Homo sapiens: one gene and its partners. The protein of the gene in region 1 interacts with the protein of each later gene in a pairwise test. Each region holds a gene or a part of one and is shown in the gene's direction. Other genes may lie near its edges. The genes, in order: SYCE3, PRPS1 and NUP58.

The links.
Region 2: the proteins of SYCE3 (region 1) and PRPS1 interact in binary tests that used the Homo sapiens proteins (3 or more experiments, as listed by UniProt).
Region 3: the proteins of SYCE3 (region 1) and NUP58 interact in binary tests that used the Homo sapiens proteins (3 or more experiments, as listed by UniProt).

The regions. Positions count from the first base shown.
Region 1 is NC_000022.11:50,556,327-50,559,980, reverse strand, and holds part of SYCE3 (synaptonemal complex central element protein 3), read left to right. Parts: intron 1-3,575; coding exon 3,576-3,654. UniProt on the Homo sapiens protein: Major component of the transverse central element of synaptonemal complexes (SCS), formed between homologous chromosomes during meiotic prophase.
Region 2 is NC_000023.11:107,634,858-107,638,511, forward strand, and holds part of PRPS1 (ribose-phosphate pyrophosphokinase 1), read left to right. Parts: intron 1-3,654. UniProt on the Homo sapiens protein: Catalyzes the synthesis of phosphoribosylpyrophosphate (PRPP) that is essential for nucleotide synthesis.
Region 3 is NC_000013.11:25,315,042-25,318,695, forward strand, and holds part of NUP58 (nucleoporin p58/p45), read left to right. Parts: intron 1-315; coding exon 316-426; intron 427-3,654. UniProt on the Homo sapiens protein: Component of the nuclear pore complex, a complex required for the trafficking across the nuclear membrane.

The DNA.
Region 1 (3,654 bases):
CAGATTGTCAAATCCAGTGGTTACTTTTTATTTATTTTTGTTTTTGTTTTTTTGGAACAGAGTGTTGCTCTGTCACCCAGGCTGGAGTGCAGTGGCATGATCTCGGCTCACTGCAACCTCCACCTTCTGGGTTCAAGGGATTCTTCTGCCTCAGCCTCCTGAGTAGCTGGGACTACAGGCGCCCGTCACCATGCCCAGCTAATTTTTGTATTTTTAGTAGAGATGGGGTTTTGCCATATTGGCCAGGCGGGTCTCGAACTCCTGACCTTGTGATCCCCCGCCTCTGCCTTCCAAAGTGCTGGGATTACAGGCATGACCGACTAAGCCTGGCGGCTACCTCCACTTCTAACACTCTGGTCCAAGCCTCATCATTCCTTACCTGGAGTTTTGCAGCTGCCTCCTAAATGATGTCCCTGTTCCATGCTTTCCACCCCTTAGTCTATTCTCAACACAGAAGCCAGAGTGATCCTTTTAAGTCATTATTCAAATCACATCACCTTTGTCAGATTTTTCCAGTGTTTCCTCATCTCATTCAGAATAAAAATCGAAGTTCTGGCCAGGCATAGTGGCTCACACCTGTAATCCCAGGACTTGGGAGGCCGAAGCAGGCGGATCACCTGAGGTTCAGGAGTTTGAGACCAGCCTGGCCAATATGGCGAAACCCCGTCTCTACTAAAAATACAAAAATTATCTGGGCATGGTGGCGGGCACCTGTAATCCCAGCTACTTGGAAGGCTGAGGCAGGAGAATTGCTTGAACCTGGGAGGCGGAGGTTGTGGTGAGCCGATATGACGCCACTGCACTCCAGCCTGGGCAACAGAGTGAGACTCCGTCTCAAGAAAAAAAAAAAAAGAGTGTGTAGTGAGAAGAGAAGGGGCTAAAAGGACCTTCCTTGACCCATTAGAGCCAGTAAAGGAGAGAGCCAAGAAAGAGCAGGGAAGGAACTACCACAGGTGGACAGAGTTTGGAGAGAACAAGGTTAAAACATCAAGAGAAGAGAATTTTGAGCAGGAGAAAATGGCCAAATGTCAGTGCTGCAGAGATGTTAAATAAAAGAAAGACAGAAAGTGCCCTGGGTGTGCCAGTTATGACTTTGGTGAGAGCATTGTCAGTGAATGTCAGAGACAGATGCCAGATGACAGTGGAGTGAGGAGGACAGACAAACGTGTGAGGCCTGGCTGCTAAAGGAAGGAGAGGGAATAGCTATAGGAGAGGGTTAAGGAAGGTGTTCTGGACATTTCTTCCTCCCATCACCCACTATTAGCCCCCTGCCCTGCCACCTGCCTGTACCTCCCCACTTACTCTTAGCAAACTATTCCTACTTACCAAAAAGCAGGACGGAGTCCCTGCACGTGGAATGGCTCCATGCCCACAGAAGTACCTCCTTTACAGATCCCGAAAGACCATACACCCTGACCCTGCACCCTCATTCTCAGATCTGCCTGTCAGGCCTCCTGGAGGGCCCTTTGCTCCTCCCTCAGAATCTCTACCCTTAACAGGGAGGACGGCAAGAGGGGAAAGATAATAATTTTCTTTCTTTTTTTTTTTTGAGATGAAGTTTCGCTCTTGTCACCCAGACTGGAGTGCAATGGCACAATCTCGGCTCACTGCAACCTCCACCTCCCGGGTTCAAGCGATTCTCCTGCCTCAGCCTCCCCAGTAATCCCAGTAGCTGGGATTAGGCACCTGCCGCCACACCCGGCTAATTTTTATATTTTTAGTAGAGACTGGGTTTCACCATGTTGGCCAGGCTGGTCCCAAACTCCTGACCTCAGGTGATCCACCCACCTCGGCCTCCCAAAGTGTTGGGATTACAGGCATGAGCCTCCGCGCTTGGCCACGATCATGATTTTCTTTCAGAATTAGAGCTTTACAATGGTCAACTCCTTTATTCAGCCAACATTTATTAAGCACTTGCTGTTTTCCTAGCTCTGAGCTGAACACTAGGAATAGTTCATTGGAAAGATGGCCTCTGCTTTCCAGGACCCCACAGTCTAGTTGGGGAGGTAGAGGAATCCACAATCACAATACCAGCTAAGAGGCACCGTGATGAGGGAGGCCCAGGAAGTCACAGGAGAACTGAGTGGAGGCCCTTAACTCTGAAGTAAAGACCAGGAAGGCTTTCCCCACATGTACAGTGGGAACAATACCGCAGCATCTGTGGCCCATCCCTCCCTGTTTTATGCTTACCTGGCTCATTCCTTCACCTTCATGAGGTTACAAGTTCCCTGGCAGCTCTTACATTATTTATCTATTTCTCTCTTTTCTTACTAGTGCCTTGTAGATAAATAGGTGAGCATCAAATATTAACAGAATGAATTAATGTATATTAATAAAGGTGAGGAGAGGATCTGGAGTGATGTAATTACTGTTCAACATTTTAAATAACAACGGATATGATTTATTAAGTGCTCATTACGGTAGGTACTGTGCTGAACAGTATATAATTTATTTCAATTAATCCTCACAAAACTCCACAAGATATAGGTAATACTAATAATTCCCGTTTAAAAAATACAAAACTTGGCTGGGTGTGGTGGCTCACATCTGTAATCTCAGCACTTTGGGAGGCCGAGGTGGATAGATCACCTGAGGTCAGGAGTTTGAGACCAGCCTGGCCAACATGGAGAAACCCCATCTCTACTAAAAATACAAAATTAGCCGGGCGTGGTGGCACTTGCCTGTAATCCCAGCTACTCAGGAGGCTGAGGCAGGAGAATCACTTGAACCCAGGAAGCAGAGGTTGTGGTGAGCCGAGATCGTGCCACTGTGCTCCAGCCTGGGCAACAAGAGCAAAACTTCGTCTCAAAAAAAAAAAAAAAACTCAAAAAAATTACCAAAAATTTGTCGAGAAGATGTGTAAGTTGCCAAAAGTAACACTGCTGATATGAGGTAGCGCCAAGATTTGAACCCAGGCAGCTCAATTCCAGAACCAGGACAGTCTCTATGGGGCACTGCCTCTAATGCCCAGGAGAATTCTTCTGGAAAGTTAAGTTGATTATAATTTTTTTTAATGTATGAATCATTTCATATTTTAAAATTAAACGTACCCGCCTCCAGGCTCCCATCGCTTGATGTCTGTAATTATTACATTAACTGCTTCGACATCTGTCACATCCTGGTTTGTCATATGGTGTGTGTGACTTACTCCCATATTGCACTAGAAATTCCTTAGGTACAGGAATTGTATCTTTGAAACACATCAGCACAATAGCTTGCATCTTAGTGGGTACTCAATATGGTTTTGCAAGAAAAAATTCCATGTCACCATTATGACAGACTTTTTTCATTATAATGAAGATGTTTTCTGTGTTAATGACTCCAGCCTTCAGCTACGTTTGTATGGCAAAGATGGAAGAAAGGGGAAGGACAACTTATATGTGCCGAATGCTATGCTGGGGCCTTTAGACATGTTCCCATTTAACCTTCACAACAGCCCTGTGGAGTACGTGGTATTGTCTGAATCTGAGAGATGGGGAAAGAATTCCTTAGAGAAATCACTGAGTTATAACCAGTGGAGCTGGATTTGAAATGTAGGTCTGTCTGACTGCAGCTTCTTTCTGTGCATTGCCTAGATGGATGATGCTGACCCTGAGGAAAGAAACTATGACAACATGCTGAAAATGCTGTCAGATCTGAATAAGGACTTGGAAA
Region 2 (3,654 bases), on another chromosome or scaffold:
GTCTCGCTCTCTCGCTCTGTCTCCCAGGCTGGAGTGCAATGACTTGATCTCGGTTCACTGCAAGCTCTGCCTCCCAGGTTCACGCCATTCCCCTGCCTCAGCCTCCCGAGTAGCTGGGACTACAGGCGCCCGCCACCACACCTGGCTAATTTTTTTGTATTTTTTAGTAGAGACGGGGTTTCACCGTGTTAGCCAGGATGGTCTCGATCACCTGACCTCGTGATCCGCCCGCCTCGGCCTCCCAAAGTGCTGGGATTACAGGCGTGAGCCACCGTGCCCAGCGATAATGATAAAGTTTTAAAAACATAGCAGAATAGCTTGTCCCTTATACTGTCTGATATCAATTGTCAAACTACATTTGTTCATTTGTTCTCCAACTTTTAATCAAACATCCTGACTCTGGCAAGTGAATGTCTGGAGCACAGATGATACTCTGTGTTCTTGACTGAAACAAGAGCCATAGGCTTCTGATACATGATTGGAAATCAATATGCCTGCCTGACTTTCATTCTCCTCCAGGGAAATGCATATTTTGGTCAAGGAGCTGATATATGGAGGATGAATGTGAGCAGCATTAAAATTTTCTGATTTTTTTTTTTTTTGAGACAGTGTCTCACTCTGTCACCCAGGCTGGAGTGCAGTGGCATGATCATGGCTCCTAACTCCTGGGCTGAAGCAATCCTCCCACCTCAGTCTCCCCAGTAGCTGCAATCACAGGCACTTGCCACCATGCCTAATTTTTAAATTGTTTTGTAGAGAGGAGGTCTCTTTATGTTACCCAGGCTGGTCTCAAACTCTTGGGCTCAAGCGGTCCTCCTGCCTCTGCCTCCCAACCACAGACTTGTTTAACATAAAACCTAAAAGTGACTCTTTTAGCTTGAAATCTCTCGAAGGGCAGAGCTAGTAGTAAAGAAAGATCTGGGCCAGACATGGTGGCTCACACCTGTAATCCCAGCACTTTGGGAGGTCAAGGCGGGCAGATCACGAGGTCAAGAGATCGAGACCATCCTGGCCAACATGGTGAAACCCCATCTCTACTAAAAATACAAAAAATTAGCTGGGCGTGGTGGCGTGCGGCTGTAGTTCCAGCTACTCGGGAGGCTGAGGCAGGAGAATCACTTGAACCCGGGAGGTGGAGGTCGCAGTGAGCCAAGATCGTGCCACTGCACTCCAGCCTGGCGACAGAGCGAGACTGTCTCAAAAAAAAAAAAAAAAAAAAACTGAAAACGTCCCAAAAGTCCCTTGAAATGACCACTGCCTGTTTGTTTTGTTTTGTTTGGTTTGAGACGGAGTCCCGCTCTGTCACCCAGGCTGGAGTGCAGCGGCTTCATCTCCCCATACTGCAACCTCCGCCTCCCAGGTTCAAGCGATTCTCCTGCCTCAGCCCCCTGAGTAGCTGGGACTACAGATGCATGTCCCCACGCCTAATTTTTGTGTTTTTTGGTAGAGACGGGGTTTCGCCATGTTGCCAAGGTTGGTCTTGAAATGGGGAGCTCAGGCAGTCTGCCTGCCTTGGCCTCCCAAAGTGCTGGGATTACAGGCATGAGCCACTGCGTCCAGTCTTAAAAAAGGTTTATCCTAAACTAGTGCATTTTCTTTTTTGTTCTGGCTGCCAGGAATCTCAGCTTCCTTGATTTTAATTGGTTTCTAGTTTGATTTTTTTTCACTTGCTTTTATTTTTCTTGCTTTACAACATAAACTAACCCCATTTGTCTTTTCTTGCTTTTGAGATGAGGGTCTTCCTGTGTTGTCCAGGCTAGACTTGAACTCCTGGGCTCAAGCAGTCCTCCTGCTTCAGCCTCCTGAGTAGCTGGGATTACAGGTGTGTGCCACCACTCCCAGCTCCCTTTCATCTTGGGTTAGAAAGGAATAAATAAGTAATTATCTCCTATGTCAGCTTCTTCTGGCAATAGAATTGCCTCTGCCAGTTTTCATATAAGTCCCTTTTGGAGTTCTCCTTGAAGTTTTGTTTGGGGAGAGAAGGGTGGGTAAAAGTGATCTTGACAGAAATAGGACAGTAGGTAGTTCCTGAAGCCACACAGAAGATAGTGCTTAGAGTGAGATAGAAGTATGGATCTTTTATTTAATAACTCTATTGCCTTTTGATTTGAACTGAAGTTTTCTCTTGTTCAATAGGTATTGTCAGCCATTCTGATCTACTTGTCTATATACACACATACACCTCTCCTTCACCTAGAGGATTAGTTGGAATATAATGTTGTTTGAGGTATCACTAAGGTGATTTTTAAAAATTTTTAAATTATTTTCTTTTTTTTTTCTTAAACCTGGTGAACAGGAGAGGTGATTTTTTTTTCTTGGTAGAGACCCGAGTATGGGCACTGAAACTTTCGTGGTAAAATATAGCCCTACTTCATACTTAGAGTAAATTCCTATGGAGTTACTTAGTAATTGGACCAGAGTACAGTTAACACAGAATGAGGGCAAGGACCACATTTTATTCACCATTGTTTCCCTAGCATCTAGTACAGTGATGAGCATATGAACATTTAATATTTACTGGGTAAATTGCCAGTATGGTAGAGGTGGTACTGTCTTTTGTTAAAGTGTCATTATAGAACAGTAGTGATTCACTCCTTATGATATTTCTACTTCTTTTGCTATTTATGGACTCTGTAACAGTAATAGGTGATGCATCAAATTTTATGTACATCACATGTACCTATATGAAATGAGATACAGGCCACCTGCTAAAATTATGGTCCGGTTATTTGTAAGTACTTTAGACTAACATGTGCCAACCATTTCATGCATCTTTTTCGTGTCTGTCACATGGTAATATTAGAAAATATTACCATAGAAAATGGTAATATTTGTATAGTGCACTGGAGTAAACTGAGGCAGTGAACTGCTTCTGGTATAAGGCTCCTTCAGAGGATCTCCTGAAGCCTAGGTGATCAATATCCACATGTAGCTGTAACCATTCACAGCATACTAGTAGGGAAGCTGTTCTTAGACCTTATTGTCTATAGAAGTATAGTAAAGTCATCCCTCAGTATCCACAGGGGATTGGTCCCAAGACCAAATCTGCAGATATGAAATAGTGTAATATAAATATATATATATATATATATATTTTTTTGATATGGAGTCTTGCTCTGTCACCCAGGCTAGAGTGCAGAGGCACGATCTCTGCTCACTGTAATCTCTGCCTCCCGGTTCAAGCAATTTTTCTGCCTCAGCCTCCTGAGTAGCTGGGACTACAGGTACCTGCCACCACACTCAGCTAATTTTTTTTTTTTATTTTTATTTGAGACGGAGTCTCACTCTGTTGCCCAGGCTGGAGCGCAGTAGCGTGATCTTGGCTCACCGCAACCTGTGCCTCCCGGGTTCAAGTGATTCTCCTGCCTCAACCTCCCGAGTAGCTGGGACTACAGGCGTGTGCCACCATGCACGGCTGATTTTTATACTTTAGTAGAGATGGGTTTTCACTGTGTTGGCCAGGCTGGTCTTAAACTCCTGACCTCAGGTGATCCACCCATCTTGGCCTCCTAAAGTGCTGGGATTACAGGTGTGAGCCACCACACCCTGACTAATTTTTTTATTTTTAGTAGAAACGGGTTTCACCATGTTGACTAGGCTGGTCTTGAACTCCTGACCTCAGGTGATCCGCCCACCTCAGCCTCCCAAAGTGCT
Region 3 (3,654 bases), on another chromosome or scaffold:
AGAGGGTTTAAAAGCCCTCTGTAACAAAACCCCTTTATAACAAGTGAAGATTGAGTGCCTACATACTGAATTGATATATGTTCTGGCCCTCGTAATAATGAAAAATCGCATCATCCAAACTGCATATGCCATCGAATTCAAGAAAGGTTATCAGTCTTTGGCCAAAACATCTCCAGGCTTGTTTCTTGTTGTTTGCCTAAATCAAATATGAAGAAAATCTAGGATCCAACTTTAAAAGCATTAGAGTCCTTTGATCAGTAAGGGGAAATTGTTGTAGTCTTTTGATGGAATTTATAAGTTATGTTTTATTTATAGGACTTGGACAGAATGCTTTAGGGTTGACTTTGGGAACTACAGCAGCTACTTCAACTGCAGGCAATGAAGGCCTTGGTGGTATAGATTTCAGTAGCTCCTCAGATAAAAAGAGTAAGTAATGCTGTTGTAACTTTATGTTTTAACAGTTCTGTTGAGGGAATGTCTAGGTTGCTCAAAATTCCTTTGTGTGGAAGATTAGCAGTTATATATTTAGTAGTAACAGTTAGCTATCTTAATGTGTATACGAATATGTATTTTTTAATAGGGATCATGATACATATGCAGTATTGTTTTGTAGTCTGTTCTTATCTAACATCAGAAGCATTTGTCTGTCAGTAACTCTTTTTAAATATTTTAATGCTGCTTAATATCAGTTTTATGGATGGATAAGTTAGTCAACCATTGTTCTCTTGTTAGATGTTTATTTCCAGATGTTTTACTTTGGGAAGTAAAACACTGGGCATTTATCTAAAAAGGCAACATAATATAGTAGTTTAAGAGTGTCTGCTCTGGAGTGGAATTGCCCGGGTTCAGATCCTGGCTCAACTGCTTATAAGCTCTCTGACCTTATTGAAGTTACTTATATTATGTGCTTTGGTTTTTCCTTATCTGTTAAATGGTTTGAGGGTTACTATTTGTAAAACCCTAGCAGAGCCAGACATGTAGGTGTCTCCTTTTATTATCAATGCTTGTTTATATTTTTGGTTATTTCTTAGGGAAAATACCTGGAAATTGGATCATTGGCTTAAAGAGAGGGATATTTTGGAGACTCTTAGTGTATAGTTTGTGAAATCGCTTTCCCAGAAAGATTTTACCAGTTTACCCCCTAACCAGTATGAAAATACCTTTCTTGCTGTGCCCTTGCCACGTTGAATCTTGGTTTTAAAAATTTGCTAATCCAAATTCATTTTGAAAATGTTTTCATTGTTTTTTGTGTTACTTTGTTTTGCACCATCTCTTCTGCTTCTGATGAAAGCATGTTTCACTAGAATATATACCATATATACTAGGGTATATATATACATATTGAACTTCTCTGAAGAAAGATAAATGGATGAAGCTGTGAAATAGTATCTGTGTATCTATATGACTTTTTTTTTAAAAAACTGGACACAGGTTTTATTATAAGGAGATACTATTCTAGGGTGAATTACTATTTTAAAGTTGGTAAAACCTTTTTAAACTTTTACAAAGTTTAGATTTCTCTTTCAGTGAAAATTGACAAATTTCTAAACAAAGTTTGTTTTTACTTAGTTTTCTCTGTAGCAACTCCATAATTAGGAAAGCAGCCTTAGCAGCTTATTTGTTTACTCAAGTGGAATAGCTTGGTACCACTTCTATTACTTTTATTTTAAGCATGAGAGTACTTCTCTATTATAATTGTTTTTAGGCTCAAAGAGCAGGCTAAGGCAGAAGAGTAAGATAAATGTAAGAAATTAATCTCCCCTCCTCTGCCCCTCCCCACATCTTCCTGCTTTCATAGTGTACCTAAGATAGAGTTGAGCAAGGAGAATATATACAATAAATGAAATAAATGTCTTAGATATGACATTAAATTTTATAAATATTTATGTACACACAAACATGTATATAAATAACTTGGGTGTGTTTCTACTATGGATCTCTGATTACTACATCCCAGTTCCCTTTTATCTATTGCTTATATCAAGGGATTCTTTTTTTTTAATCCAAATGATTTCTGTGTTTCTAGTAGCTGTATCAGTTAGCTTGGGCCCTGCAGTACCAGTGTGGGATTTAACCAGATAGAGAGTAGCAATAAACAGCATTCAGTGAAGAGGGGACAGCGTCAAGTGAGACTAGAGATGAGAAGGACCTTGACCCTTTTGAGGAAATGATAGAAGGCCAGATTAGCCATAGAGCAGAAAGATGAGGTTCCAGAAGTCATGGAGTCCTTATTTGCCATGTTGAGTTTTGTCATTATATTAATACCTCAGGCAATTTGGGTCTATTAAAGGGATTTGATGAGATTTGTATTTTAAGATTAAGAGCATTCTGACAGCCATATGGAAAATAGCATTCAGGAAGGCAAGAATTGTCATGGAGAACTGTTAGGAAGCTTTTGTAGAGCTCCACGTGTATTACTGAGGCAAAGCTAGGTAGATTAATTGGGGGTCCATGGTAATCAGGGATCCATGGTAGAAACAGGCTCAAGTTTTTTTTATATACATGTTTGTGTGTATGTAAGTATTTACAAAATATAATAAAATGTCATATCAAAGAAATAATATGCTAGTCAATTTAAAAGTTGGTGAATTATTTGGAGAAACATAAAATGAAATCCTTATTTTTATTTCCATGTCTCATAAAATCTAGGACGTCTATAGAAGATAGGTGGCAATTTTAGAGATACTAAATATGAAAGAAAAAAATCTTAATAAAATACAAAACATGGAAACATAAATTACAGTTGGATGAAAGAGGTAAAAAAGTAAAACCCCATGTGCAGAGGTAAAAGGTAAATGAGGAAAGTAAAATGCTTGATTTTTTTTTTTTTTTTTTTTTGGGATACAGTGACTTGCTGTGTCATGCAGGTTGGAATGCAGTGGTGTGATCTTACCTCACTGCAACCTCCACCTCCCTGGCTCAAGTGATTGTCCTACGTTAACCTCCTAAGTAGCTGGGACCACAAGTACGCAGCACCACGCCTAGCTAATTTTTAAAAAATTTTTTGGCCAGGCGCAGTGGCTCACGCCTGTAATCCCAGCACTTTGGGAGGCCGGGGCAGGTGGGTCATGAGGTCAGGAGATCAAGACCAGCCTGGCCAAGATGGTAAAACCCCGTCTCTACTAAAAATGCAAAAGCTAGCCGGGCACAGTGGCAGGCACCTGTAATCCCAGCTACTCGGGAAGCTGAGGCAGGAGAATTGCTTGAACCTGGGCAGCAGAGGTTGCAGTGAGCTGAGATCACGCCACTGCACTCCAGCCTGGGCACTAGAGTGAGACTCCGTCTCAGAAATAAAAAAAAAATTTGTAGCCACAGGGTTTTGCCCTGTTGCCCAGGCTGGTCTCCAATTCCTGGGTTCAAGCAGTCTGCCCAAAATGCTTGATTTTTAGGTGCTTATTTTTTCACATTTTAACATCTCTGAAATTGAGATACATCTTACAAGAGTCTAATATTAGAAATACATATTAAATTATGTAAATGAGACAAATAATATACTTAATGTTGAAATAGCTCTTAGAAATATATAAGAAAAATACCGTAAGAAAAGTGTGCAAATCACAAGTAAGCAGTTCATGAAAGAAGAAATATACTTGTCTCATGAGCATTTGAAGAAAATGGTTTTCTTCACCAAATATAAACTAAGAATTATTATGA